Linked DNA regions of Homo sapiens. The protein of the gene in region 7 purifies or fractionates together with the protein of the main gene of each other region. This does not show direct contact. Each region holds a gene or a part of one and is shown on either strand. Other genes may lie near its edges.

Evidence for each region.
Region 1: the proteins of ANKRD36B (region 7) and PER3 purify together in Homo sapiens (co-immunoprecipitation; one large-scale study listed by IntAct). This does not show direct contact.
Region 2: the proteins of ANKRD36B (region 7) and VLDLR purify together in Homo sapiens (affinity purification with mass spectrometry; one large-scale study listed by BioGRID and IntAct). This does not show direct contact.
Region 3: the proteins of ANKRD36B (region 7) and CHD9 purify together in Homo sapiens (affinity purification with mass spectrometry; one large-scale study listed by BioGRID and IntAct). This does not show direct contact.
Region 4: the proteins of ANKRD36B (region 7) and GULP1 purify together in Homo sapiens (affinity purification with mass spectrometry; one large-scale study listed by BioGRID and IntAct). This does not show direct contact.
Region 5: the proteins of ANKRD36B (region 7) and CCDC66 purify together in Homo sapiens (affinity purification with mass spectrometry; one large-scale study listed by BioGRID and IntAct). This does not show direct contact.
Region 6: the proteins of ANKRD36B (region 7) and TTK purify together in Homo sapiens (affinity purification with mass spectrometry; one large-scale study listed by BioGRID and IntAct). This does not show direct contact.

The regions. Positions count from the first base shown.
Region 1 is NC_000001.11:7,786,873-7,791,424, forward strand, and holds part of PER3 (period circadian protein homolog 3), read left to right. Parts: intron 1-325; exon of another isoform or gene 326-374; intron 375-1,172; coding exon 1,173-1,374; intron 1,375-4,552. UniProt on the Homo sapiens protein: Originally described as a core component of the circadian clock.
Region 2 is NC_000009.12:2,619,951-2,625,058, reverse strand, and holds the start of VLDLR (very low-density lipoprotein receptor isoform a precursor), read right to left. Parts: upstream 3,273-5,108; 5' UTR 2,870-3,272; coding exon 2,788-2,869; exon of another isoform or gene 2,686-2,787; intron 1-2,685. UniProt on the Homo sapiens protein: Multifunctional cell surface receptor that binds VLDL and transports it into cells by endocytosis and therefore plays an important role in energy metabolism.
Region 3 is NC_000016.10:53,302,370-53,306,921, reverse strand, and holds part of CHD9 (chromodomain-helicase-DNA-binding protein 9), read right to left. Parts: intron 3,203-4,552; coding exon 2,297-3,202; intron 689-2,296; coding exon of another isoform or gene 686-688; coding exon 525-685; intron 1-524. UniProt on the Homo sapiens protein: Probable ATP-dependent chromatin-remodeling factor. Acts as a transcriptional coactivator for PPARA and possibly other nuclear receptors. Has DNA-dependent ATPase activity and binds to A/T-rich DNA.
Region 4 is NC_000002.12:188,567,464-188,572,015, forward strand, and holds part of GULP1 (PTB domain-containing engulfment adapter protein 1), read left to right. Parts: intron 1-1,775; coding exon 1,776-1,892; intron 1,893-2,156; coding exon of another isoform or gene 2,157-2,180; intron 2,181-2,564; coding exon 2,565-2,657; intron 2,658-4,552. UniProt on the Homo sapiens protein: May function as an adapter protein. Required for efficient phagocytosis of apoptotic cells. Modulates cellular glycosphingolipid and cholesterol transport. May play a role in the internalization and endosomal trafficking of various LRP1 ligands, such as PSAP.
Region 5 is NC_000003.12:56,619,256-56,622,337, reverse strand, and holds the end of CCDC66 (coiled-coil domain-containing protein 66), read right to left. Parts: intron 3,068-3,082; coding exon 2,811-3,067; intron 2,562-2,810; coding exon 2,437-2,561; intron 2,207-2,436; exon of another isoform or gene 807-2,206; coding exon 720-806; 3' UTR 501-719; downstream 1-500. UniProt on the Homo sapiens protein: Microtubule-binding protein required for ciliogenesis. May function in ciliogenesis by mediating the transport of proteins like BBS4 to the cilium, but also through the organization of the centriolar satellites.
Region 6 is NC_000006.12:80,021,172-80,025,723, reverse strand, and holds part of TTK (dual specificity protein kinase TTK), read right to left. Parts: intron 3,401-4,552; coding exon 3,252-3,400; intron 1-3,251.
Region 7 is NC_000002.12:97,579,271-97,583,822, forward strand, and holds part of ANKRD36B (ankyrin repeat domain-containing protein 36B), read right to left. Parts: intron 1,299-4,552; coding exon 1,192-1,298; intron 1-1,191.

The DNA.
Region 1 (4,552 bases), on a different chromosome or scaffold from region 7:
GACTTTTCCTAAGGGCCTGCTCTAGATGTAGGCTTTTAAGAAGGATAACAACGTTTCAGCAACCACAATTTGAGAGAAGCAAAGGAGGAACTGCTAAAGAGGCATGGTGTAGCTTCTCCGCCCTTGCCAGAGAAAACATCTAAAAGCAGAAGCAGCCCGTTCTGTGTGCTGTGCAGCTCAGTGACTTTGGTTATGAGGTGCTTCTAGCTCCTTAGCATTCCCAAGCTCTCTTGAATTAAGAGAAAACAAAAATTACACTGCAGAGTAATTTCCTGCACCTTATTCTAATCTCCGAATTGTTAATTTCTATTTATATCATTCTTAGTTCCAATACCTACTACTTCAAGTTGTAACAACTGGATGTTATAGAACAGGTGAGTTGAGATGCTGTCATTTTTCCTAAAATTTTGGAAGAGACCTTTAGTATATCTTTTTTAATCTCTCTTCTTGTTTGACAGAGTAATCTTCATGTTTGGTTGATACGGTGGAGATTACTTATTTTAAGTAACATAATTGTTACTTAAAGATTTTGTAATAGTGGAACGTGCGCAATCCCTAGTATTATAACAGTGCTTATTTTATGGACTGGTGTGTACATAGTACTGTAGGAGGTGCTATGGAGATTTTTAAAAATAGCTTAAGAAAATATTTGTCTTTTAAGATATTTAAAATAAAGCTAGAGAGGAAAGTATGCCAATGCTAGCAAACACAAACTGCTGATTATAAATAAGTTTCATTTATGTGTAATGGAAAAAATTAGAGCAGTGATGCTTATGTAATGAGGTTTGTCAAGGACAGCTTCTTGAAGAAGGTGAATCTTCAGTGTGTCTTAAAGCATAGAATCTGCGTTGATGACGAGAACACCGTCCACCCAGGTGTATGGCACAGTTTGCAGAGAAGTTATGTGCCATACGTATTTTAGTCTGCATAGAATAAGCTAGTATATTTTTTGGCATAGAAATTGAACCTTCAGTAGGTGAAGTGCAGGTCTTAGGAGAAGATTTAAGAAGCATGTTGGAGAAAATTATTTGAGGAGTTTTGTTGCATTTGTAGGTTGTGCCTGTGTATTTTAAGATACTGGTCATGTTAGAGATCCAGAAGAAATTTACCTTTCAGGGAATATTGCTAGTGAGTATCTCAATATTTGCATTTATTTTAAATGTTTTTCATAGGATACCTTTGTGGCAGTATTTTCATTTCTGTCTGGAAGGTTAGTGCACATTTCTGAACAGGCTGCTTTGATCCTGAATCGTAAGAAAGATGTCCTGGCGTCTTCTCACTTTGTTGACCTGCTTGCACCTCAAGACATGAGGGTATTCTACGCGCACACTGCCAGAGCTCAGCTTCCTTTCTGGAACAACTGGACCCAAAGAGGTAACAGGACCAATGTTCAGATGTCTATCTTTCCTCATCAAGATCAGTTTCATTCTTACAGGAATAGTACAGAAATTAACATATTATTTAGAACATGCACACTATCTGGTTTTTCTTATTCCTGTTATAGAAAGTCACGTGATGAAAACAGCATTTTAAAAGCTTCTGATAACATACTCAATACGTTTGTTTCCATTTTGTCACATCTGTTTCACAGATGATATGTCATAAATATTATTTCATTACCAGCGTATTGTATAGTGGTTTAGTTGCTATGAAGGCTCTGTTTCCTTTAAGTTAAAATTAAATGTTTTTCCTCCTTCATGATTTCCTTGTATGAGAAATTTTACTTTGGAGATAAAATTTGGATCATTAGGCTGGGCAAGGTGGCTCACGCCTGTAATCCCAGCACTTTGGGAGGTTGAGGCAGGTGGATCACCTGAGGTCAGGAGTTCCAGACCAGCCTGGCCAACATGGTAAAACCCCATCTGTACTAAAAGTACAAAAATTAGTCAGGCATGGTAGTGCATGCCTGTAATCCCAGCTACTCAGGAGGTTGAGGCACGAGAAGCACTTGAACCCGGGAGACAGAGGTTGCAGTGAGCCAAGATCACACCATTGCACTCCAGCCTGGGCGACAAGCGTGAAACTGTTTCTGGGGAAAAAAAAAAAAAAAAATTCAGATCATTAGCTCTCTTACAGTTTTTCTTGCCCCTGAAACTTATGAGTCTTATTACTTTGTTTTCCTTCTGGAATGCTTTTCTTTCATAATTCAAAGATGCCTATTGCAGTTTTCTTTGTGACATTCAGTCCTGTGTGATCTTAATTTATTTCTTTTTAGTCATCCTTCATTATTTTATATTCTTTGTGAAGTGTCTCTTAAAGAGCTTTAAAATATATATATATATATATCAGCGTTCTCTTTGATTCCAAGCCCTTCTCTCTAATTAAAAAAAAAATTCATTGTAGTAAAAAACACATACAGTTTACTATCTGATATAGTTTGGCTGTGTCCCCACCCAAATCTCATGTTGAATTGTAACTCCCACAATTCCCATGTGTCGTGGGAGGAACCCAGTGGGAGATAATTGCATCATGAGGGCGTCTTTCCCATGCTGTTCTCGTGATAGTGGATAAGTCTCATGAGATCTGATTGCTTTAAAAATGGGAGTTTCTCTGCACAAGCTCTCTCTCTTTGCCTGCTGCCGTCCATGTAAGATGTAACTTGCCCCTCCTTGCCTTCTGCCGTGATTGTGAGGCTTCCTCAGCCACGTGGAACTGTAAGTCCGTTAAACCTCTTTCTTTTGTAAATTGCCCAATCTTGGGTCTGTCTTTATCAGCAGCATGCAAACGGACCTAATACACCATCTTAATCATTTTTAGGCATTCACTCCATTGCTGTGAAGGATGTTTACATTGTTGTGAAACAGATCTCCATAACTTTTTCATCTTTATATCTGAAATTCTATCTACTATTTCTAATTTTTTACCCAGTAGTTAATTTAATGAAGGGTAGCTTTGCGTGTTTCTTCTTCCAATTATAGATTGCCCCATCTTTTAAAAATATTTTTACATAAGCTCTAGAAAACATGCATGTCATCCCTGCTTGCTTCTAGCTCATCTCTTTTCCCATCTTTCAAAAATACTGATTTTATTTCTCATCCCCTTTCCTAAATACACATTTTCAACCTTTGTCTGTATTTGTTTCTCTGCTTTTGTTAGCTGTTCATTCCGTAAACATTTATTTAATAATCACGTGGGTCAAGAACTAGTCCGGATACAGATACAGCTGTGAACAGGACATACACAATATTGTCTGCCAGGTCTTTCCCATTTTTTCCCCAGGTATTTTTCCTTCAGCACTGCCTGTGGCTTTTCAGCCTTTTCATTTTTGCTGATTACTGATTACTGCGATATTTCCCTTCTGTATTAGTCCATTCTTACGCTGCTATAAAGAACTATCTGAGACTGGGTAATTAATAAAGGAAAGAAGTTTAATTGACTCACAGTTCCACATGACTGGGGAGGCCTCAGGAAACTTACAATCATGGCAGAAGGGGAAGCAAACATGTCTTTCTACACATGATGGCAGGAAGGAGAAGAATGGGAGCCGAGTGAAGGAGGAAGCCCTTTATAAAGCCATCAGATCTCTTGAGAACTTACTATCATGAGAACAGCATGGGGGAAACTGCCCCCATGATTCAATTACCTCCCTCCGGGTTCCTCCCACCACACATGGGGATTATGGGAACTATAATTCAAGATGAGATTTGGGTGGGGATACAGCCAAACCATATCATTCTGCTCTTAAGCCCTCCCAAATCTCACGTCCTCACATTTCAAAATGCAATCATGCTTTTCCAACAGTCCCCCAAAGTCTTAGCTCATTCCAGCATTAGACCAAAAGTCCAAGTCCAAAGTCTCATATGTGACAAAGCAAGTCCCTTTCACCTATGAGCCTGTAAAATCCAAAGCAAGTTAGTTATCTCCTAGGTACAATAGACGTACAAGCATTGGGTAAATACACCCATTTCAAATGGGAGAAATTGGCCAAAACAAAGGGGCTACAGGCCCCTTGCAAGTCTGAAATCCACTGAAGCAATAATTAAATATTAAAGCTCCAAAATAATCTCCTTTGACTCCATGTCTCACATCCAGGTCATGCTGGTGCAAGAGGTGGGCTCCTACAGCCTTGGGCAGCTCTGCCCTTGTGGCTTTGCAGGGTACAGCCTCCCTTATGGCTGGTTTCATGGGCTGGCATTGAGTGTCTGTGGCTTTTCTGGGCTCACAGTGCAAGCTTTTGGTGGATCTACCATTCTTAGGTCTGGAGGATGGTGGCCCTCTTCTCACAGCTCCACTAGGCAGTGCCCCAGTGAAGACTGTGTGGGCTCCGAACCCAAATTTCCCTTACACATCTCTCTTAGCAGAGGTTCTCTATGAGGGCTCCGCCCCTGTAGCAAACTTCTGCCTGGACATCCAGGCATTTCCGTACATCCTCTGAAATCTAGGCAGAGGTTTCCAAACCTCAGTTCTTGTCTTCTGCACACCTGCAGGACCAACACCATATGGAAGCTGCCAAGGAATAGGGCTTGCACCCTCTGAAGCTATGGCCTGAGCTGTACCTTGGTCCCTTTTAGCCATGGCTGGAGGTGAAGCAGCTGGAATGGAGGGCATCATG
Region 2 (5,108 bases), on a different chromosome or scaffold from region 7:
TTAAATAGCAGTCTATTGTACTAAAGTCTTAATATTTGGCAGCTCTACTTGACCTTTATACATGCTTTAAGTATCTGGGGACTCAGGCCATAAAAGCAAACAATCAAAATGACACAGGACAGGCACTATAGGTAAATGCCACATAAAGTGGGCAAGAGGGTGATCCAGGGAACAAAGCTACACTGGATTTCATGAAGCTGTTACTGCCAAGGAGGGCTTGGCTGGTGACCTTCCTTTACGCAGTCCCTGCTCACATGAGTGATCAGTCTTTGATAAGGGGTACTATCATCGTCATACCTTCATTGGTGCTATCTGGATGAGCCAAGTTTACTTTCCATGCCAACCAGTTTCCTACCTCCAGGTCTATTACTACCACCAGTACCACCAACCCACTTCTCACAATGAGGGAATTTTCTTTCTATTCTTAGGCTAGTTGCTAGCCATATATGAATAGCTCTCAAAAAACCTTGGTTCTTTTAGACTCTGGCCTTAAAGAATATATCATACCACAGATCTTAATCTTGACTACTTAGGCTGAAGGAAAATGTCCCAGAACCCCCAGGAATTGTGCAATCAGGTATACCAACTTCTTGTTAGCCTTAAGTTCCTTGCCAGAGTCTCAGTGTTCACCTGTCTTGTCCAGGAGTATTGTGGAACAGCACCATGTGCCAGTGGACAGAAGGGGTATGTGTAGAAGCTCCAGGGTAGAAAGTCAGCCCACATGCCCTGAGACTTTGAACTTAAGACAGATGCCGGTTGGGATTGGTTTAGGGTCAATAACTGCCTCAGCCCAAATTTCCTCCAGTTCTGGAAGAATCTGCTTCCTCTCCTTTGAAGAATTTGTTTTTCCATTGTTCATGGCATGTCAAATATTTCACATGTGACAAAGTGAAAAGGATCCTCACCTGCCCAATACAAGGTGAACATCTGGCTTTGACTAACTCATGTCAGTAGTTTAGGTGCATTCCTAGCATTCTATAAGGTAAAGTTAACCTCTAGTGGAAGGGACATGCAGCAAAAACGAAACTTTTCTCTCACCTTCCTGGATAATTGTCCCTCCTTCTGGTATACCTTAGCGTTTTGAAATGTTACAAAAGGCATAATGCAAGTCATGGCACTATACTGAGAAATCGTTTAATAAGTTAGTATTACTCATCTATTAATGATTAATGCTAGCGTTTGGAAACTCTTGTAAGCAGAGCTTTTCTAGGCTCTCAGGCTTGTTACACATCAGATTCCATGTTCACTACACATTCGTCCTCTTCAAAGAGTCCAGGCAGGGGAAGGCATTTGAGAGAACAGCCCGTAAGAGCCTGTGGAGTCTCCTACTTTCCATTGAAAATAACACTGCCCATGCTGCCCACTTAAGAGTCCGCGGAACCATGTGACCAACCTAAACGTGATCGCACCGCTAACCAATCGCAGAGGGCGGAAAGGCCAGTCCCAGTTCACACGCTCCGGACAGTGGCAACCAAAGGGCAGGGGCATTCGGAGACGTAAAAACCCCAGGCGCTGCCCGACAGGCTCCTTGACCACATGCTTTAAAGTTCGCTCTCACTTCAGGAGCACGTGACTGCAGGCCGGCAGGGCCCCTGAAGCCACCCGGCGACGGGAGCCAGGGACTCTGGAACGGGTGTTAAGGGCCTGGGCGGCTTTCAGTCCCAATTCCCTGCAGCTGGCAAGCAAGCCCCTCGGCGTCACATCTGAAGATCACTTCGGGGACGCGCTAGGATTCCGACTGAGTCCTCTCAGAAAGGCTTCCTGTCGCCTGTCCAGGAAAGTTACGAGGCCCCAAGTGGGAACGTGGCTGACGACCAGGCGGGGCCCCCAGGCCCCCGCGGCAGAGTCTGGGGACCCGACAGTAGTCACCGCCGCCCTTCCCAACAAGACAGGGCCACACGCTCGCTCTCGCGCTGCTCCTTTGAGCTATTGTGTAGAATGAAGGCTAATTACAGTCACTAGCCTAGGACTCAATTCCTCTCGAGGAAACGTCACCGGGAAGGAGGGTCAGCAAACTAACCTGATTAAGTCTCCCCTCCACTCCCCCTCCGCGTTCAGCTACACGGGAGACCCGAGCGGTTTCCAAACGCCGCCCGAGGCGGGGAAAAGGGAGAGGAGAAGCGCCCAGAGCAGAGTCCTGCGTAAAGCCCCGCCGCTCCCCTACCCCGCACGCCGGAGAGGCGGCCCCGCGCCGGGGGAGTCGCAGTCCGGGTGCCCTCGGCTCCGCGGAGCCTCCCGGCCGCCGCCCACCGAACGTGCGCCAGCTCGCGGCCGCCGGAAGACTCTGAAGCCCGGCCGGCCCCTGGCGCTCCGCGTCCCCGGAGGCGCTCACCTTCTCCCCCCGTCCGCTCCCGCACTCCCCGGGGTTCGAGGGTGCGCCCGAGGCTGCCGCACACGTCTTGGCCCTCTGCCTCCTTCCCAACACTGCGCCTGGCAGAGGAGGCAGAACCATTGTTCAATGCTCAGAAGCCCACGCACCTCGGCGCCCGTCAAGAGGGCGAGAAACGAGGCGAAGCAGCGGCTCTGGGGGAGGCGGAGTGAGGGGCAGAAGACTAGTTCAGGCGAGGCGTCGGGGCACCCCGAACCCCGCTGTTCCCCAAGCCCGGCTCCCTTTAGCCTCGGCGCTGACAGCTCAGAGGCGCCACCACGGAGGGGAGGGAGGGAAGGCGAGGAGAACCGAGAGGCGCCTCCTAGGAGGCGGGTGGGCAAACGGAGACCTACGCCTCGGGGTCTCCCGGTGCCCCGGCTGGGTCCCGCCCGCCGGCGGAGGGGCGCGTCCTCACTCACCGGTTCCGGTGGCGCCGCTCTCCCGGGGCGCCCAGCACAGCGCGAGCAGCAGCCAGAGCGCCCAGAGCGCGGACGTGCCCATGGTGCCCGCCTGGATGGTGCCGCCGCCGCCGCCGCCGCCGCCGTTCGCTCCGCACGACAAGTTACCAGTCCTTCCGAAAGGAGGAAGAAGGTGGGGGCGGGGAGGGGAAAGGGGGAGAAGGAGGGGAAGGAGTTGGCGGGGGAAGGGAGCGGGGAAGAAGAGGGCACCCCCTCCCCTACAACTTGCACAGTCTCCTCCCCACCCACCCAGCCACCTCCCCGGGCTGCAGCAGCAGTGCAAGCCGAGCCTGCGGGCAGAAAATAATGCAGGCGCTGCAGAGGAGGGGAGGCAAGGGGAGAGGAGGGAAGGGAGAGGGGGTGGGGAGCCGAGAGCAGAAGAGAGCACAGAACGGAGAGGAGCCGGTAGCGGAGCACCCGCACCGGCGGCGGCCGGAGAGCGGGGTGAGCAGCGGGGAGGGGGCCGGAGGGGGCGTGGTCAACGGGAGGCGCGGCGGGCGGGCGGGAGCGCGGCGGCTTCGGCCCTCCTTTCCCTCGACGCGCTCCTCTTGCACGCGCCGGGCAGCCGGGTGCCCGCGCGGGGAGCGTGCGAGTGTGAGCGTGCGTGAGTGACCGCGGTCGTGGTCGTGGCTGCCGCCGCCGCCACCCGGACCGCTCTAGGGGCCCGGCTGCTCCGCGCGTTCGCCTGGGGCTCACGGGGGCCCGGGGCGACCGCTGGTTGGCTCGCGCGCCGCCCTCGCCTCCAATCCCGGGTGCCTGTCCTAATTTCCTGATCCAGGGAACCTGCCGCCGCAGCGGCTGTGCGCTCCCTACAGTCATTACTGTACCCTCCCGGCAGCCTCCGGCAGAACACGCAGCAGCAGCAGCAGTTAGCGCTGATGCAACTATCGTTGCTGTTGCCACCGCCTCCCCACTGACGGGGCGTGCACCTGGGGGGTACTTGCAGTTTCCAGGGGCAACAAGCATCTCTCTACCACCCTCTCCTGCGCCCCTGAGAGAGGCTGGTAGGTAGCATCTTCTTCGGGCCTCCTCTATCCACTCAGAAAGTGATGAAGCGGAGGGGCTCCAAACGTTTGGGCTGCTCAAAAGTGGGGTTTGGGATGCCGGTCTCAATCGCACGCTGAGATGCCGTTTTGCCGAAAACTAAATGTGTCTTTAAGTGAGAGAGTGTGTATGTTTGAAAGAGAGTGCGCGCGGTTGTGGCTGGTCCTCTGTAATAGAACAAGACTGAAATAACCCAGCCTGGGATGAGGAGAAGGGAAATTGCTAGCGCAGCTTTGCATTTGCTCATCAACGATTATAGTTAATTGCTAATTGCACAAAATGATAGTTTGAGGGCCTGTAATTAAAAGCTTAACCTTTTCTTGTTTGGAAGAGAGGGGCCCCATACGTTTATTCCTCTTGATATACTTTGTAACATTCAATTACAAGAATCGAGGAAAGAATAAAGGAAGCAAAGACAAGACTCCTAGAAAGGGTTGGTTCTTCTTTTGTGCCTGACAGTACCTGAGTCTATAATTTGCTTTTTGTGTACTTCAGTTTTCTTGCACACTTAGCCCTGGTTGAGGTGCATTGTCTGCTGTGGTCTGTTGAGCATCTAACCAGAGTGGGAGGGCACATCGAGCGATTTCACTTTCTTAAATAAAAGGTTTTTGGTATTTTGAAAAAGTTGTTTTTATCTTAATTCAAACTTGGAAGGTTTCAATAATATCATATTCTGACTCTATTCTGTTGGTGATCTGAAGAGCAGCGGGCACTGCCTCACTGTCTTCTCCTTGCCCTGGTTCTCCTGGAAATTTGTCAAGGCTAGCAATCAGAGGAGATGTTTATTAGGAACTTACTATATCCAGGAGACACACAGGAGAGGAAAATTCCAGTCAGGATAGGTTTCTGTGGGCCAAAGATATCCTGATTGTGACTGCTAAGCATGAAAGGGCTTAACTCTACGTATGGATGGTATCTTGCACTATAGCTCATTTTGAATGCTATTTTGCCCACCCTGTGGTTACATAGTTGATACAAACTGCAGCAGCCACACAGGTTGCATGTGAAACAACTGAAATTTGTTTGTATGACATTTAGTAGTGAAGATGCATGCCGGTGTTATTCACCTAATGGCATTGAGATGTGATAGGAAAACCTTAGTGCATGATGTCTTTCATATTCTCAGGGTTCTGAAATGCCATCTGATGAGCTACTGCTTTACAGAAGAGGAAAGGAGTAGAAGGGATGGGTGGAATCAATACAAAAAGAGGCAGCATTAATAAACAGTCATATGACTT
Region 3 (4,552 bases), on a different chromosome or scaffold from region 7:
TGTAATCTCAGCTACTTGGGAGGCTGAGGCAGGTGAACTGCATGAACCTGGGAGGCGGAGGTTGCAGTGAGCTGAGATTGTGCCACTGTAAGCCAGCTTGGGCGACAGAGTGAGACTCAAAAAAAAAGGAAGAAAATCTGTATTAATTCAATCTTTCTTCTTCCACTGAATGTACATGTATTTAAATGAACTTTTCATTCTAGGTCACAACTGGCTACAGTAAACTTCTTCAAGGAGACTCAGTCAAAAGCACCTGTTTCATAAAGAAGCACTTTAGGATTAACTTGAAAGTAAGGATTCATTATCTTTTATTCTAAACATTCTAAAGTTATGTTGAGAAGCATACACATTAAAGCAGAACTATTTACTTGATAGCAGTAATTTATACTTTTGGAGCTAACACCAAAATGTCATCCTACATTTTACGCTGACCTATGTTTCCACATAGTAAGAATATCTACCATTGAAGCAATATAGAAAAATACTAAAAAATGACCTATCCCAATAAGAAATTATTTCTTTACCTTTGGCCAATACGAGGCTGCCAGCATATATCCACCTTGTAAGATATAAGCAGACTCTGGTGTCCCATTGTTCATCTGAAAACTATCCTGAGTCTCATCCTGGGTAGTGCTCAGTGACGCGACGCTTTCTTCATCATAGGCTTTCATGTGAGTAGTACTTTCTGCTAAAAACAATTATAATCATTTTTTAAAAAGACTACATAAAATAGTTTTATATATAAGGATTTTACATAATTATTCAGAAACACCTGAAAATGAAAATGTTAGAAGTAAAAACAAATGATAAAAAAAGAGAAAAAATCACCTAGAATATAAAAAAAGCACCTATCATTATTATTAAGAGACAGGGTCTTGCTGTGTTGCACAGCCTGGACAGAACTCCTGGGCTCAAGCAATACTCCTGCCTCAGCTTCTCAAGTAGCTCAGATTACAGGTGTGCACTACGCCTGACTTCATTACTCACTATTTTTAAAATGATTCCTGATTGGTAGACTTCATCTGGATTGGCAGAACTATAAATACCTGATGAGGATACCATAATTCTCTTGATTAGGTGACTCTTGTAACTCTTAGAATTGGGCATGTTTCTTGCGGCAACCCCGAAAGTTATGCCTATGGAGTTGTTACAAGAGACCCCAGCTCCTGCTCATGTTTAATTGGACTCATTTTCTTGCCCCTGAACTGGTGGACTGCTGCAAGGGTTCCTGCAGAAGGGGACCACCAAACACTGTTCTGCTGACAAGCATTTGTCATGGCTGACAAATAAATGGCTTATGATATTCTCATTAGCTTAAGACTCTTGGTGACTGCTATATAATATTATCTTTTACTTGTTCACTAATCAACTTGTTCCTGGGAAAAATATTCAATTTAAGACAATCACAAATAAACTACTGTGTAAAATTTCTAATTCAATTGCCTGATTAATCTACTGTGTAATGCCTTGAATATTAAACAGGGAATTTGTATCAGTAACTAGTTTTCTTCCCAATAGTGCTTTCCTAAGAACATTTGTATATATAAAACTTAAGCAAACAGGCCAGGTGTGGTGGCTTATGCCTGTAATCCCAGCACTTTGGGAGGCTAAGGCGGGCGGATCACCTAAGGTCAGGAGTTCGAGACCAGCCTGGCCAACATGGTGAAACCCTGTCTCTACAAAAATACAAAAATTAGCTGGACATGGTGGTGGGTGCCTGTAATCCTAGCTACTCAGGAGGCTGAGGCAGGAGAATCGCTTGAACCTGGGAGACAGAGGTTGCAGTGAGCTGAGATCGTGCCATTGCACTCCAGCCTGGGCGACAGAGCGAGACTCCGTTTCAAAAAAACACTGTAAGCAAACAATTTTAAACATCCTTAAGTTACCTGAAACGAGTTCTTTTCATTTTCACTTGAAAAGTTATATTAGGCCAGGCCTGGTGGCTCATGCCTGTAATCTCAGCACTTTGGGAGGCTGAGGCGGGTAGATCACCTGAGGTCGGGAGTTTGAGACCAGCCTGACCAACATGGAGAAACCCCGTCTCTACTAAAAATACAAAATTAGCCAGGCATGGTGGCACATGCCTGTAATCCCAGCTACTTGGGAGGCTGAGGCAGGAGAGTCGCTTGAACCCAGGAGGTGGAGGTTGAAGTGAGCTGAGATTGCGCCATTGCACTCCAGCCTGGGCAACAAGAGCAAAACTCCATCTCAAAAAAAAAAAAAAAAAAGAAAAGAAAAGAAAAGAAAAGAAAAGAAAAGTTATGTTAAAAAAGTAGAATTATTTTATGCATAGTACCTCGTTTTTGGGCTTCTTCTTCATCACTGTCACTTTCTTCTGATGAAGATGAAGAGGAGGAGGAGGAGGAAGAGGTGGAGGAAGAGGATGAAGAAGATGCTGAAGAACAAGATGAAGATGAAGAAGAACTAGAGCCTGATCGAGAGTGGGAGCAAGAAGAGGATGATGAGGAAGAAGATGATCTGGAAGAACAAGATGATCTCTCAGAATCTGAGTCAGAATCAGAACTAGATTCTGATCCCCTTTTGTGGACTCTTGGTTTCTTAGAAGCTGGGTTTGGAGTTAGGGGTTCTGTTCTGGCTGCAACCATGCGTCTGTCTGTTTCACATTTTCCACCAGATTTCTGGTCTCCAGTAGCCTGTGGTAAAACACCATTCTTTGGACTTACAGGCTCAGATTTTATTAGTGTCCTGGTTTCCACAGAAGACATAGATTCTTCTTCAGAAGACTGAGGCTCCTCTTTAAGGTTTTCACTTTTAACTTTCATCTCCTCTAGAATAATACCTTTAGCATCTAGGAGCCTAGGTAGAGAGGTAAGAGGAGAAGCAGAAAGTGCTACTTGATATTGCTGTAGAAGTGGGGTAGAAGTCCTTGAATGAGCCATCTTACTTTGACTGTAGTTCCTCTGAGCTGCCATAAATGAGAGTTCAGGATCACGAAGAATGTGATAGTCTGTTCGGCTCACCCCGTGTTTGGCAGCACCAATAAGCAAATCCCTATCATGAGGGCCACATTCCCACCAGACTGGTAAATCTGGATTTGGATGGCAAAGCTTCAAGCGTTCAAACAACTGTGGATGTCGAAGGGCCTGTTCCCGTACTTTCCTTAGAAGTTCAATGCGATACAAAGTCCTAGAAGCACGTTCTTCTGTGATGGGCTGGATAAAAATATTTGGATCCACCAATTCTACATATTGAAACAAGGACAAAAATATTAATCTCAAAAATCCTTTATTTATAAATAAATCATTATAAATACATCTTTATATATTTATAACAATACCATTTCTAAAATGTGCCTCCATGCAATATCACTGTATAGTTTCCAGAATTTCTTTTCAGTGAGGAGAAATTCAGTGAGGATTTTGAAATTTTGAAATTTCAGTAAAAGCTTTAAAAAGGAGAAAGTTTTAAAAGTAAGTACTAAAAATCATGTAACATAAAATACTGGATGTTAATGTAAAACATAAGATTATTTTGGAAGTACATTAATAGAACTGGGAATTTTAAGAAATTCCCTATGAGCGATGCATTTAATAACATTTGTCTTAATAACACAAACACTTGCTCAAACTCACTTATAAATTAGAAGTGTTCAGGGTTGTCCAATCTTTTGGCTTCCCTGGGCTGCATTGTAAGAGGAATTGTATTGGGCCACATATAAAATACACTAACACTAACGATAGCTGATGAGCTTAAAAAAATTGCAAAAAAAAAAAAAAAACTCATAATATTTTAAGAAAGTTTACGAATTTGTGATGGGCCGCATTCAAAGCTGTCCTGGGCCACAGGTTGGACAAGCTTGTGTTAAGTGATACTCCATAAACAAATGTAAGCTGGCATATCTCAAACTGCAAAAGGTAAGAGGACATTGGAGTGAACTCACAGGGGCAACAAGGGCTTTCTCAAATTTCTAGGGAAACACAGCCACATCTTTCAAACACTGCACAAATTACTAGCTTGAGATAGTTCAGTTTCAACATGAACTCATGCTACCTCATACCTCTGATAAGGTTATGCCTTTGCAAAAGTGGGTTACTGACACTTGGGAAGTACTCAAGAAACATGGGCTTGCTGAAACAATGCAGGGACCAACATAAGCAGCTCCTAATGCCAAATATGGAACAATCTGAGCAATAAATAAAGACAATATTGGATTGTAACCTATAGAATAAATACCCATGAATCCATACTGATATGAATAAATAACTGATTAAATAGATGAGAGAGAATGAAACATCCTTTCTTACAGCAGAATTCCACAGAAAAAACTGTTGTAGACAAGATTTAGTATCTGGCAGATACTAAAAATCAATGGGTGAAAGTTTGAGAAGAAACAAGATTTGTGAAGCTTAAGATATTTGTTAATTACAGTAATTTTACACTGGCCAAATGCAGCATAAACTACCTTAACCACACAATTAAAGTCAACATCATCAGTAATAAGACATACTGACATCTCCAATCCCTTGATATTACATTCTGAGAACACATCATTTCTGTGGCACTCTTGCCAAAAATGCATGACCTCAATCCA
Region 4 (4,552 bases), about 91 Mb from region 7:
AGGAATGAGATAATGTCCTTTGCAGGGACATGGATGAAGCTGGAAGCTATCATCCTTAGCAAACTAACACAGGAACAGAAAACCAAACACCACATGTTCTCACCCAGAAGTGGGAGTTGAACAATGAGAACACATGGACACAGAGAGGGGAACAACACACACCAGGACCCATTAGGGGGTGGGAGGCGAGGGGAGGGAACTTAGAGGATGGGTCAATAGGTGCAGCAAACCACCATGGCACACGTATACTGTATAACTAACCTGCACATTCTGCACATGTATCCCATTTTGTTTTGGAAGAAATTTTTAAAAAGAAGAAGAAAAACGTCTTTTTATTGTAAAATAAACAGAAACCTATTACCCAAAGTTTTGAAATGAGAAACAGAAAACAAATTATTCATAATCCCACAATCTATCAAAACCACTTCTTTAATATTACAAATAATCTTAATATCTAACACAACCAATTAGTTTAAGTCAATGAACATGCATACATTGGTATCTGTCATTTTCATTTATTTGGTAGTTTTTATTATAGCTCGTTGTTTACTTTCTTGTCTTTTTTCTTTTCTTTTGTAAAACAGTCTTCCTTTAAAATATTATGTACATATTTTGCATTTTTTAGTTAACTAGGTTAAATACTATATTTTTGTCTAAAACCCTCCTTAAATAATGAACTATAAAAATTCTATTAAATGATATAAGATGATTAACAAAGCATGTTTTCATTTTATGTTGATCACAGTAGATAATAAATTATTAGAATTTGTAGTAGAGTTAAAGCATAGCATTTTCAATATATATTACTACTAGTCTTCTTGTTATCTGGAGGTCTTACTAAATATGACATAATTGTGACAACATTAAATCTTATTGATGCCTTTACCAAAATTCTTTATAATGTTGATTAAGTAAATAAATCTTTAGTCTTTACTATGTGCAAGACATTATGAATTCAGTGGAGATATGAATGGAGAAGAAATGAGCTTGTGGATGTAAGATATATTTGTGGCAGTTTCAAATCAATAGATCTGAGATTGTAAGTTGTTTACAAGCCCAAATTCAGATGACATATATATTTTGATCACTGGCACTGTGTTTTACCAAAATACAAACTGTTTACCATCGCTTAAAATTGGGAGCTCTCATATAAAATTTCAGACTTCTGGCCTCATCTTTCATACATAAGATCTGACAGTTTCAGATTGGAATTGCTCACTTCCACCAGGCAACAATTAACTGGGACAGAGTAGCAGGTGTTCCATTTAGAGGGCATACCTCAAGTTTTCCAGAGACACCACCTGGCCAGCCTCATTCAAGTTACCTGCTTAGGGTTTAACAAACCCTCCTCACAAGGAAAAGGAAATAAATAGCAAAGCAAGGAGAGAAACTACATTTGGCACTCTGCTTTCATTTCATAGGCACTAAATATTTGAGAAAGGGAGAAAAACAAGTAGGAAAAAACAATACAATAAAAGAGATGAGAAGTTTGACATAAAGAACTCTTGCTTCCAACTTTCCCACTTCAACAGCTATTCAGTAATACCCACCCCCAAGTCCGCTTGTTTTTTCAATGTTGTGCCTGGGTAGGTGTTGAGTTATTACATTAGCCTACTACCTTGCTCATTTAATACATCTCTACTCCCAACTGTTGCCCTTTTGAAGTACCTCTTGTGAATGTCTTGGAGTAAGTGCTTATATGAATGTTGTTTTCTCGATTCAAAAACAGTTTGACATATTATTAAAATGCAAATCTTTGTTTGATTTTTACACAGGCTGAAGAGATCACTTTAACAATTGGCCAAGCATTTGACCTGGCATACAGGAAATTTCTAGAATCAGGAGGAAAAGATGTTGAAACAAGAAAACAGATCGCAGGGTTACAAAAAAGAGTGAGTAAACTAAGCTTGTTGTTTTACATTTGTGTGATGTAAGTACAGGGAAACTTGCATATCGTCAAACAAATTTAGAAGCCCTGCCATTAAATTTCACCCACACTGACTGATTGGAACTGCTTTCACCGTGTTCCCATAATTTTTCGTTCCTGATCCCCTGCACAGTTTTTTTTTTTTAACTATTTTATATTGAATTCCCACAAGAACTTAGTGTTCTCATGTGACTTTGCTTCACTTCCTGATGCTTCTCATGGGGATCAGAGCAGCAGAAGCAGCAGATGCTGGGTAAGTGGTTTTCCATGCAGATCAGATTCCTTGGTAATTAAATTATGCCTTTCTCCACTCTTCAAAATCATCATAAGCAAGTTTCACTGTCTTGTGGTTATATTCCAAGATTATGGGTATAGATTGCACAGTCCAACAAGAAAACACAATGTTGAGATATTAGGAACATAAAATTTGCACACACATAAAAATATATTATAAATTTAAGTCTTTCAATGATCTAGAATCCTCCAGCATTTCCCAAGCTTTATCAAACAATTTTCTCCCCACGCACAACAAAGTACATTAAAGTTTTACGTAATATAAATTCCTACTCATAACTGTAGCCAATATTTTCCAAGAAAAAAAAAACAGAAAGTTATTCAATAATGATTTTCTTTTTAGATCCAAGACTTAGAAACAGAAAATATGGAACTTAAAAATAAAGTACAAGATTTGGAAAACCAACTGAGAATAACTCAAGTATCAGCACCTCCAGTGAGTATATTGAATATCCTTAGAAACAAGATTTTATGGTGATAAAACATCTGTGTATCACTAGTTCTGCAATATTTCATATAATACTTGGGGATCAGTAATTTCAAAGTAAACATGGATAGAGATGAAGGCTGCTAAGCAGTTTAATTTAAAACTTAAAATTACCTAGTCAGTTCAAATCAGAGTTGTTTTCTATGTTGCTGTTTTCCTCTGGGTTTTCTAACATAATTCAACCCTCAGGTTAGTCTTAAGTTTTATTACATAATATAATTTTTCTCTTTGTGGCATATTCTTCTTTTGTTTCTATTAATTACTATTTGCTGGGTTAGATTTAATGACCTATGCCAGTCTCCCCTTGAAGTGCTCAACTTCATTGTAGGAATTCAACTGTGAGCAAGACTGAACCTGGTTTCTTATATTACATGGTAAGGGTTCCCGCTGGGAGTGAGGCAATTGTATTTCAAACATTAAAATGAGTGGTATTCTCTGCAGACAAAACTCAAGTCTTTGTAGTTAAAATATTTATGTCTGACTTGTCACAGTTTTGAAATCCTTTTCCCAATACCATGTATGATATCATTATTACATGATTTTGGCAAAGGGAATTTATTGGAGGGAGGTGGAATTTAAAACAATATTTTTTCTAGGCAAAATATATTCAGGAAAAGATATTTTTCTGTTTGAATCATCTGTACTACTGATATTCTTTATTAAAGTGTATTTATTATTCTTCATTTAAAAATATTTAATATCTATGCCAAGCACAGTGGCTTATATCTGTAATCCCAACATTTTGGGAGGCCAAGGCAGGCAGATCATTTGAGCCCAGGGGTTCAAGACCAGTCTGGCAACATGGTGAAACCTTGTCTCTACAAAAAATACAAAAAATTATCCAGGCATATTGGCACACACCTGTAGTCTCAGCCACTGAGGAGGCTGAGGTAAGAGGATGGCATGAGCCCAGAGGTCATGGCTGCAGTGATCCATGATAGCACCACTCCACTGCAGCCTGGGTGACAGAGAAAGACTCTGTTTCAAAAAAAATTAATATCTAACTTATAACATAAACATGAACTGAAAAAAGAAATTTGTTGCAAAATTTTTTATGGAAGCTTATTGTGCTTCAATACGTAGGATAAACTCAATGAAAATGTTCATTTCTTAATATCTAATACTAGAATCATTCACAAGCTCATCACTATGAAAAAGGATGTTTCTATAGAAGTTTCATTTAGGGTTTCAAACTTGGCACACTCTGGAAATGGGTCAAAAAATGATTTTTCCTGTAAACTCACATTTTTCCACCTCCCATTTGAAAGAGTGAGTATTTCCATTGCTTGGCAGATGGTTTGTGCCAGTAGGGCTCCTATGGCCTTGATGAGAGAGGTTGGGACTGAGGTACCAATGTATCTATGCTGGAGCATCCTCTTCAGGTTCTGGTTTTATTCTGATATTCCTTCTTATTTTTTCTTGTCACTGTCTGCTGCTCACCAGGATTATGATTTTTTTCTTGCCTCTCTCGCTGCTAGGGACAGAACATCAGTTCAAACTCATTATTCAACCTTCCATCCCAAGATGGAACACACATCCTCTTGGGTTTTGTTGAAATTCATATTGTAAGCCATGTTGCGAAATATGCTAGGAGAATAAGAATAAATGTACTTCATTTATGTGAAGGGAAGTAACTTTTTCAAGGAGTTTTGATAACGTAGTTGTTTCTGGAATTCATCACATATGAAGAGTAGCTTTGCTTTCATTTTTGTGTTGACAAAGGAGTAAAATAAGCTCCATCACCTTCTTGGATGCAAATCCAAACCTGGTCATTGTGTAACCTCTTTATCTGAGGAAGAACATTTGAGAGGAGCAAAGAGGTTTCAAACATATTAATAAAACTG
Region 5 (3,082 bases), on a different chromosome or scaffold from region 7:
TTTTAGCAAAATGGAAGTATAATGGGAATATATTTTTGAGGTGGTCTTAGTAGTAATTACCATTTGTTGAACACATTAATGCTATACTAGACAGATACAGTGGAGATAGCTTTCAAACCCGTATCTATTCCTAACTACTGCCTCTAATACTAATTACTAACTTGTTACTAATGCTAACTTTTAAAAATGTTTTTGAAAATTGCAATTTCTACAAATAAATGTCATAGTGCAAATAAATGTCAGGATTTAGAGAAGGAGCCTAAACTGAATTTGTGTTATTTCAGTAAAAGTTATGGAGTTATGGGTCTAGACGTGTTAATAAGTTAGACAGAACTTTGGCACTTTAGAACAAATGCATGAGTGGTATTTCAGTTCCTAAGTTACATAAAAAGTGTGAAAGAACACTGTGAGGTCCCAGCAACGCCAGACTATATTAAGGTAAGTAGAAAGTGTTTTTATAGGGCTTCAATACCCAGGTGGTGACAGAGCAGAAGAACCGGTTTTTTTTTTTTTTTTTTTACTACTAAGCTTTTACAAAAGAAGTATCTGTTTTATTGTATAGAACAAGTACAGCATTTTACTACATAGTATACAAGTTTTTAATGAGCATTTAAAAAAATAAGTAAATCTAGGCTATTTGAAAAATACAGTTGAGCCAGTGAGCACATTTTATAATTTGGAAGACACAAATCAAATGTGAAGGATTTGATTTTCTACATTTAAAATGAAGAACCAAAACTCTCTTCTTGATTTTCAGCTAAAGGCAGGAGACTACTTTCCAACTCCTTTTGCTTCTGGAGAAGGCCCTGAAATCACATTGATATATGTTTGTTAGTAAAATGTGCACACCTGACTTGCAATGTTGTGTTAAACTAGAATTATATTCACTTGGAAAACATATCGCTTAGGATAAAATTTTGTCATTCAAAAATTTTTTCAGAAATGCTTGTACTAGACCACCTCATTTGGATATATAGCTATCACATTTGTAAGATTCTGTTTTTAGCATAAAAATCAATAGGGATGAAAATTTTCTTAGAACTCAAGACTCCATAACTATGGGGGTAAATGAAGTCATCCCTTCTCCCCCAGTCCACCCCCAAGTGCTCTTAGATACTGAAGGAGTCTCCCTTAACATACAGTGTTTTTTTTTTGTTGTTGTTGTTTTGTTTTTTTTTGGAGATGGAGTCTCGCTCTGTCGCCCAAGCTGGAGTACAGTGGTGCAATCTCACTGCAAGCTCTGCCTCCCAGGTTCACACCATTCTCCTGCCTCAACCTCCCGAATGGCTGGGACTACAGGCACCCACCACCACGCCTGGCTAACTAACTAACTAACTTTTTGTATTTTTAGTAGAGACAGGGTTTCACTGTGTTAGCCAGGATGGTCTTGATCTCCTGACCTCATGATCTGCCTGCCTCAGCCTCCCAAAGTGCTGGGATTACAGGCTTGAGCCACTGCTCCTGGCCAACATCCAGTATTTTATCTTGACTGTCCTAACCTTACCTTAGATGCTAACAGAAGGGTCCTGCTGAAATAACACTGGGTGCTATATTGATGGGTAAATGTGTACATCCTATTCCTTCCTCTTTATCTCACAATTTTTGTCTCCACTAAGCAAGAAGTAAACTAACACTTCGTCACTCTAAAGAAATAACTTATGTAAAACTCTTAGTAACCCTGTTTGTCTTCAAATGAGTAAATAGACCAAAGTGGGGGGACAATTTTCTAGTTCTGTAGAGGGAAAAACATCTGAGTCAACATTTTGAAATGCAGAGGGTATTGGTACATGACGACATGGAAAAGGGCACTTTTAAACACAGCTTACTCTTCCTCAAGTACAGAGAGTATATAGTGAATCAAAACTAACTACAGCCATTCTTTTTAAAGCCCAAGGGATGGAGCAAAGGTGTAAGGATGTTACCTGTTTGTTTTAATCAGAGAGCAAAAAGAAGTCACAATAGTTTGGGAGAAAAAGTAGTATGGTGAGTAAGGTTATGCGTATAATTTCATACTGAATTTATTACTATTTGGGATGTACGTCAATGTTCTAACAAACACTGCCAACACGTCAATTTTTTAAAAAGCGTGGGCCACATTGCTAAGAATTTGTTAAAGCATAACTGTATTTTTTGTTTTAGGGCCTTATTGATGTTTTGCCGTTCCAATGTATGCATTTTTTTACTCAATAAACTTGTCTTAATTTTAGAACTGTCTGATGATTTCGTACTGGAAAGAACTACTCAAAGACGGCAGTGTAAAAGCAAGTCTTAGGAAAGTCCCATTTTATTTGTGTCTAACAAACATACAGGAACTGAAATATTTTTGTTAAATCCTGGGATGCACCGAAGTAACTTAAAACAAACCGTTCAACAGGTTCCCCCAACCGCCCACGCCACATAAAGAACAGACATATCTACACTTGAAAAAGCTCATACCTGTCTCAGTTCTGAAAGTCCCTTAAGGATTGCTTGCTGTCGATCCCTATTTTTCACCATGTTAGGATTAAGAAGTGGATCCCTGACACAGTCAGAATCAAATAGCTGTCGTTTTTGGCCACAGTCTAAAGCCAGATGAAAGTAACAAGTCAGTCAATTACATTAGTAAAATGACATAGCCCTGTGCTATATAATATTGTCAGGAGTCATTATAATAAGTATGTATCCTAGGAAAGTACTAAGAAAAATTTAAGACATATTCAAGAAACTTTATAGAACTAAGTGCAGGAATTACTAATTTGGAATTTAAAGTTGTTGACGGGGTTTACATGGGTCTTCAATTTTTACAGTTAGAATGCTTAATATTTACTTACCTTGTGAATTTTGGTACTGAGGGTCCTGGGTTGAAGGCCCAGACAATGGTGCATCGGGATCAAGGTAATAGATCTCATTTGTTCGAACATACGGAATAAAATGGGATGATTCAGAAATCCCAGATGATAATTCTGTTTGATTACTTCCTGAGATCAAATTCTCTCTCTCATAGCTACTGTTTTTTAGTGGTAAATGTAATGTATTTTGAGTTTGTTGGGTTCTGTTTTTCACTACTGGAACTGGTGATGATGGAGACCTATTTAAAAAAAAA
Region 6 (4,552 bases), on a different chromosome or scaffold from region 7:
TTATTAGAATATGGCTATGCCAATTTGTTTACATATTGTCTATGGCTTTTATTTTCATGCTCTAATGGCAGAGGTGAAAAGCTACAACAGAGCCCATCTAGCCTGGAAAGCCTGCTAACCCTTTACATAAAGTTTGCTAACCCCTGCTGTAGCACATCTCAATTAAATAGAGAACCAAGTTTTGCTTGAATACTTTTAGTAACTAAGCACTCACTAGTCTACAGAGGTTCACTTCAATTTCAGGACAGCTTTAGTTATTAGAAAATATTTGCAGATAATTTGGATTATATTGGTTTATCTATTATAATTTCAACACACTGGTCCTCATTACGCACTTGAGAATTACAATGACTAAATCTATCCTACTTTCTACATTTCAGTCTTGGCCAAGAAATTTTTTTTCCAGGATAAATTTTCCCTCTCATTTAAGACTTCGTGTGTCTGTGCTCACGTACAAGCACGCACATATTTTAAGATTAGTGGTAAAGATGTTACTGAGGAACTGCTGTAATAAGATTAATGAACAAGGAAAATGAAAAAGATCACGATCATAGAGTGGAATGTTAGCATCTGCGATTTTGGAGGTCAGAATTGAGGATATAAGGAGTAGGTGGCTAAAGTAAAATTAAGGAAATGGTCATGAGACACGAAGAAGTTAGAAAAATGAAGGCCAGCTGTAGGACTGGTAATACACAGGGGTGTAGAAGCCAACAAAAACAATGACAGTTGTTGGGATCTGGTTGATCCAGAGCCTTGTATCTTCAAGGAATGATGGGGAGTTACCAGGACATTCAGAGATGAGAGTAAGTCAGAAGTATCAAAAGAGCAGGCCTTTTGCAAGAAAGAGGAAGAAATGGTCTGGACACAGAACAGAGAGCACACAGCCATATGGTAAGTGAGATGTGAGACAAAAACAATCCTCCCTTGAAGGGACTGCTGGACAAGCAGTATCCACAAGAAACTGCCTAGATTCTATACTTTTTCTTTCTACGTGTACTATTCAATGGTTTTTAGTTGCTCAGTGGTTCACAGCTGTGCAACCATCACCACAATCCAATTTTAGAATATTTTCGTCTTCTAAAAAGAAAACTCACACCCATTAGCAATCACTCCCCACTCCCCACTGCTCCCAGCCCCTGGCAACCACTAATCTACTTTCCACCTCTATGGATTTGCCTATTCTGACCATTTTATCTAAATGGGATCATAAAATATATGGGCTTTTGTGGTGAGCTTCTTTCACTTAGCACGTTGTAAATGTTCACTTATGTTGTAACATGTACTAGTACTTCATTACTGTTTATTGTTGATTAACATTCCATTGTATGGATGTACCACATTTTCTTTATCCATTCATCGGTTGGATATTTTGTTATTTCCACTTTTTGGCAATTATGAAAATGCTGCTATGAATATTTATGTACAAATATTTGTGTGGATGTATGTTTTCAATTCTCTTAACTACAAACCTAGGAGTGGAATTATTGGATCATATAAAGCTACGTTTAACCTTTTGAAGAACTCCCAGACTCTTATCCAAAATGACTGCACCATTTTACATTCCCACTAGCAGCATATGAAGGTTCTAAAATTCTCCACATCCTTGCCAACACTTGTTATTGTCTCTTGAATTACAGCCGTCCTAGTGGGTGTGAAGTAGTATCTAATTATGGTTTTGCTTTGCATTTCTTTAATGATCCATATGGTTTTCAGTTCCCTTACAATCCTATTAGTGTACAATTTTCAAATAGAAAAAAAAGAGGAGATGCTGGTTTGATACAATCTATGACTCAACCTATCAGGATCCTTATCATCTAGCATTTGTTATCTACATCTACTACTTAAGAGATCTTACTATGACAATATTTACCTTTCTCACTTTTATTTTCTCATGAGTATATAAGGAGTTTTCCAGAGACTGTATGACATGTAATAATGAAATACATTGAATGCAAAAGCAGACATAAGAATCTAGTCTTCTGTTAAGCCAATCATTAGATTTGTAAAAACTCTAACACAGTGCTACTCTTCCCACTGTAGTTATTTTGTTTCAGAAAATACATATTTTTCATAAAAGTACATTTATATTCACATGAGTTTATCAGTTATTTTATTTCATTTTATTTTTTTTGAGACAGAGTCTCGCTCTGTCACCCAGGCCGGAGTGCAGTGGCATGATATCTGCTCACTGCAAGCTCCGCCTCCTGGGTTCACACCATTCTCCTGCCTCAGCCTCCCAAGTAGCTGGGACTACAGGCGCCCACCACCACACCCGGCTAATTTTTTGTATTTTTAGTAGAGACAGGGTTTCACCATGTTAGCCAAGATGGTCTCGATCTCCTGACCTCGTGATCTGCCCGCCTTGGCCTCCCAAAGTGCTGGGATTACAGGCGTGAGCCATCGTGCCCAGCCCTCAGTTATTTTTAATAAATTAATAAACATTTTTAAAGTTTCTTGGCTTTACTTCCTAATATAGTAAATAGAGATAGATATAATCAACATAAACAAAAGCTCTTTAGGGGCACTGATAATTAAGAGTATAAAAGGCCAAATGTTTGAGAACCACTGAATTAATAAAGCCTTTACTATATTTACTACAAGTCACTGAAAAGAAATGGTAAGGAAACTATGGCCATGAACTGCAGCTATAGCTCTTTAGTATCCTACTTGATCATTCCTTCCGAAAAGCCACCAGGAATGATGACTCAGTATGTTACAAATTCATGTACGTTGTCTAGGCTATATTTTTCTATTTTTATCAATGAGTATGACCACAGGAAACTGTTAAGTGCTTGGGACAGCACTGCGCTAGTTCAGAGATCAGCATACAGTTTTCGGTAAAGGACCAGATAGTAAACATTTTAAACTTTGCAGGCCAAGTGGTCTCTAATACAACTAATCAACTCTGCTCTTATAATGCAAAAGCAGCCATAGACATTAAATGAATGAGTGTGTCAGTGTTCCAGTAAGTCTTTATTTACACAATCAGGCTAAGAACTAGATTTGGCCCATAGCACCAGTCTATCGGCAATCTAGAAACACTATCGAAGATAGAAAATAATTTAGCCTGACTTACTGAACGTATGACTGCTACTGATCACCACTTTATAAATGATTTTAAAAACCTTTAAATAAACTATTCTACTAAATATCATACACATTTAATAAAAGAAAACATTTAATATGATCATCAACCTTCGGAAATGCATTATGAACAAAAAAGCAATATTGTACTTTAGTGGAAAAGTTACCTCTGTATTAACTTTTCGGGCTAACTCCGGAATCTGCCAGTGATTTGAAGATGCAGCAGGATTCTGGTTAATACACTCTGACTTTCTCTTAGATTGCCACTGTTTCTGGTTACTCTCTGGAACCTCTGGTTCTTGATACTCTTTAGTTTCTGAAATTGTATTTGTTGTCATTAAAAAGCAAGAATATTTGATCATAATAAACTAAGCCTAAACAACAGAACATATTACAAACTATATGAGTATTTAGTTCTTAAAAACAATCAAGGAGGGAGAGAAACTAAAAGCTTTAAGCCAGCTGCTTAACAATTTGCTTTTAGCAAGTCAATTTCACAAAGTTGCACTATAGTCATCTTCCTACATTGTTACTAAGAACTTTGTCAGAGACCTTGCCACATTTAAATGCTTCTTTACCAATAAATAAGTAAAAATTTAAAAACATATAGATGTTATAAAGTCTTACTAATAGAGAAGCTAATTCATCACTTTTCATAGACCGAGTATCCAACCCTCAAAATGCAATTTAGAACATTTTTTTTTCCTTTTTGCTTTCAGCCTGGAAGCATACTTTGAAACCCTTAGTTTCTCCCTTTCCCACCAGGCATGTCCATGAACAGTGTTCACTTATCTAATTACGTACTTGCTTAGAAATTTCAGGGGCCAGTTTTGAAACAAACCAAGCAGAGATGGAGTTGCAGACTCCTCTTGCATGGGGGGAGTTTCGAACAGTTAGCCTAGCATTACCCAGCTGAAGTCAAGATGACACAAACCATACCTCCAGATGGGCAATTACTCAATATAACTATCACAACAAGACATTCAGACCTGCACCACTCCTGCATCTCTTCCACACCTTTTCCTTTTTAAACCCCTTCACTCAGCCCAAAAAGTTGAAATGGTCTTTTGAGGGCATGAGCCTGGCCAGTCCCCAGCTGCTAGCATTTGATTAATAAAACTGTTTTCCTTCCACCACACCTCACTTCTCATGTTTTTGGCCTCTGTGTTGTGAAGAGCCGGACTTGAGTCAGTTACAAATGTGGTGCCCTGTGTGAGGAACTGTGTGTTTTGAGGGGCTCAGCCTGTACGCCTGGTTTCCAACAAGTGGAGCAATTGGCTGTGGGAGCAGGCCAAGGCTCACCCACTCAGGCTACCAGGCCAACGCAGGAGCCACTTGCAAATGCCAGCTGCTCATGGCTAGCTGACCCTGCAGCTGGGACCTTAAGGAACTCCCAGCAGCTAGGGAGACCACCCTTGTCTGAAGGATTTTTCCTTCCCTTCCCTTTGTGGCATCAGCTGCTGTAACA
Region 7 (4,552 bases):
TGCTAACTTAAAGTCCTTTGATGGGCAAGAAATATGCTCAGGCCACCTATCTACAGTAGGCAAATTTAAGTGAAAAATTATTCATTTCTTCCCTAGTCTGATACTATACATTATAATGCAAAATCAGCTGAAGGGTCAGATAAGAGCTATCTGCAGGCTTAAAACAATAATATTAATAGGAATGCTAATAGTAGTAGTCATAGCTTCAGTTAATGATGCTCATAAGCATGTGCTAGGCATTTAATTAAACACTATATATATATATATATGGAGGATAATAATATATCCTTCAAGGGTGGTTGTGTATAAGTAATATCACATATATATAAAATATATATAGTATATTATATATAATCTATAAAATATATAATATATAGTATATTATATATTATCTATAAATATATATTGTATATATTATATATTATATATGATGTTAGTTACATTATATTCTTACATACATATGTGTGTATATATATTATATGCACATACTTATATGCTCAGCCATTGTTTCCAAAACATCAGCACCTTGCTCTGTTAGCTGGACATTCTAACATTATATATATATAATGTTACTTACACACAACCACCCTTGAAGGATATATTATTACCCTCCTTTTCACAGAAGAAAACATACTTGGTAAGTAATGTTACCAAGGTCACACATCTAGCAAGTGGGAAAGCTAGGGATTAAACCCAGTCCTGTGTGAACCTAAAGCTTGTCTTCATTGAAGTAAAGTTTTATCCATCTAAAGCTATCTTTTTTCCCCCTCCCCATATCAATTAAAAACAACATCAAAACACAGTAGAAATGAAAAACTAACATGAAACCCCTTTAGCTAATGTAAGATCATACAATCAAAAGCATCACATTATTACATTGTAAATAACACCACATCATCTTACAAATAACAAACATCTATCAATATACAGAGCTTTCTATATATAGAAGCCTTTTATGTGTATAATGTCTATAGAGAGAGATGAATCCTGCTATACACTGTTCTTTATGTTACTCAGTCCAAATAATTGTTTTTCTACCTAAGTGATGATCTGTGTTGATATTTCTCACTATATCCCAGTAATTAAAAGTTAGTCTTCTTACTAATGTAATATTTGTGACTTGAGTGACTGCTACCACTCTAAAATGACACTCAGGTTTAAAAACAACACAATAAGAACTAAGGTCTGTACCTGCCAAGATAATCAATGGCATTTACATTTGCTTTTTTCTTTAATAAAAATTCCACCATTTTCACTTTTCTTCGACTCACAGCAAGTAACAGTGGCTGATATTCATTCTGTAAAATAACAGCAACAATTTATAATCACAAAATTACATATTTATCAACTGAAATGAAAACCTTATGTAAGATCCTGTGAGCTTCAATATATACAATTGAAAGGTCGTAAGAGGTAGTCCCTTTCTTTTCCCTCCTCGGTGCTTTTCTATGTTCTGCTCCTTCCCCTGGAAACAACCTCCTCTGCCTCACCACAAGAACTCTGGTCATCTCCAAAACTCACTTCAAACATTTCCCAGTTCCAAGAATCTTTGCTTCTGTCCCAGCATTTAGCATGGCATGTTTCAAGGATTTAATTGTTTCCCACCTGAACCAAGAGCTTCTTGAGGGCAGCAGCTGTATTTTTTTCTCTATGTCCTCAAACTCTAAGACACAGTAATAAATGTTTCAGGTATTTTTATTAATGATCTAAATTATTATCTATAGAGCGGTGTTTCTTAAACTATTAATATATTCCAAAGGATATTTACTTTACCAGAATTTGAACATTATACCCCAAAAGAGAGACTCCATGATCACCCATGTTTGAAAAATGTTACAAAACTGTGCATTATGTGTCTAGTATTTGAGAAATCTTTTGAACTTCACCTAATCCCTATTTGTAAATACTTATTTTGGAGAATGTTAACATTTGAGAAATGAGAGTTTCAGGGATACAGTTGTGAGAGCTTACCAGTAAAGGTAGAGGTTTCCTCTGGGTGATACACACTTGCCTCATTCTCTTCTATCGATGGTGTGAGAATCTCAGGTGACAATGTCAGGAGCTCCTGAGCACCTGAGCACCTGACATTGTCATCTGAGATTCTGACACGATTGACAGTTCATTTGAAGCCTATCTCTTTTTAATTCGGAGAGCCGGGCTCTGAATTAATAGAGATAGGCTTCGAGTGAACTTTCACTGCTTATTATTAAATAGTCCATGGGTTTTCTCTAGTAATATTTTTATCTTAGCTGTCAGAAAGCTCTGTATGAAATGTTATTCTCAATTACAATCTTAGGACCCTGATGCAAATATTTATGTAATTATAATCTTAGGACCCTGGTACATAACTCCTTTAAAAATCTATTTGTATTCTAGTTTCCAATTCATTCTTACCTAACTTATTTTATTTTAGGTAAAATATCAATCAGAAATAAAAATACAATGGCTTATCAATTAAAGCTCTAATAATGACCTATATGAATTATTTATAGCATAATGAAAACCACTAAATTATTTGCATCATTTATTTATTTATTTATTTATTTATTTGAGATGGAGTCTCGCTCTGTCACCCAGGCTGGAGTGCAGTGGTGCCATCTCGGCTCACTGCAACCTCCGCCTCCCGGATTCAAGCACGAGAAATTCTCCTGCCTCAGCCTCCCGAGTAGCTGGGACTACAGGCGTGTGCCACCACACCCAGCTAATTTTTTGTATTTGTAGTAGAGAGGGGGTTTCACCGTGTTAGCCAGGATGGTCTCAATCTTCTGACCTCGTGATCTACCTGCCTCTGCCTCCCAAAGTGCTAGGATTACAGGCGTGAGCCACTGCGCTCGGCCAATTACTTGCATTTTTAGGAGGCAATGCTGAAGAGAAAAATATAATGTTGTCTGCAATATGCATAACCTATGCAACTATACCATGATTCACCTTAAAAAGCTTACATGCATTCTAATGGGAAGATGATTATTTATGGTATGTATAAATAGTTTATAAAACACCACCATCTAAATTCAAAAGTTCAACCCGATTACCAAAGGATTTATATAAAATATAGACTCTACATTTAAATAAATATAAAATGTCTTGAAAACCTTGAAATATTTACTAAAATATATTATAAAACAGGGCTTGTAAAGTCATCCCTACAGAGGCAAGGGAGATGACCTGAGGAAGTGAAGTACCTAGGTAGGCACAGTAGCAAAATGGAGACCACATGCCTCATAGAAAGGGGCAACCTCTGCACAGCATCCAAAACCTGAGATAGGCTCAAGGGACACCAGATTGGATTCTTGAAGAGAAGCTTGGAATCCAGATCTGTGCACGAGTCTCCTAAACCTTCCATGTTGAGACAATTTGTAGACGCAAACTAAACACATGTATGGGACACATTTGGACTATATACCTTGTATTTTTATATTTGCTATGGATATGTCTCCAAGCGATTGTATGTAAAGCAAGTATTTTCATGTAAAATACTTCCTTTCTTTAGTTTCAGATTTTTTTTCCAAAATAGGCCCAAGAATGCAATAAAAATTGTTACTAAGAGTCATAATACCCACTTTGAGCACTTTTACAACATTCATTCATTTATAATTTATGTTTAATTTTCCCAGATTGTTCACCAAATGGATAATTAGTTCATAGGACTGCTGCAACTAAATTATTAAAATAATATTAAATTATAATTCTAGTTTCTATATTGTAACCTAATTTTTTTTATTTTAGGTAAAATATAAATCAGAAATAAAAATACAATGGCTTATCAATTAAAGCTCTAATAATGACCTATATGTATTCTTTGTATTCTTACTAACTTCATGGTTTTCAGTGTTTAAAACTGCTATCCTGATTATGCCACAGTTCTATGTACTTAACTGACATACTGAGGCAGTCCATAATAGAGCTTCAGCTTTAAAAAAAGGTTTAGAATTTTTTGCTATTGTAATTGAGAGAACCCCGCTTTTAATAATGATGTATTGACCTAATCACCAGAATGATAACAAAGAGACTCAGAGTCCTGAAAGAGTCAGTCTCTACTTATTAAAAGAGTCCACAATAGCAAATTTCTAATGACCCTATGAATGGCAGTGAATAAGTGATGGTGGCAAAGAAAAGGTGTTATTCTTATGCTGATAGATACTGCAAATAATAGTCCTTTCCACTTCCCAACCACAGAGGTAGAGACAGGTAAAAGTCAGGCCAATATTATTGGAAAGGAGAAATTTAAAGGAAGCAGCACCTATCTCCAGCTCTTCTAGAGATTTTTTGTGTGTTTGAGATATGGGAATTTATATTACACTTATCTATTCAGTGGTTCTTAACCAGCAGCGTATCAGTGTCCCAAGAAATGTTTTATTGTTGTTGTTGTTGTTGTGTTGTTGCTGTTAGAGGCAGTGTCTTAATCTGTTGCTCTGGCTAGAGGCACCACCATGCCCAGCTTCAAGGAAATATTTTAAAACATACATGCCCAGTAATATTTAATAGTAAATATTAGATTTACTATATTAAAATCTTCAGGGGATATCCTAGACTTAGAGATTTGCTTTTAATT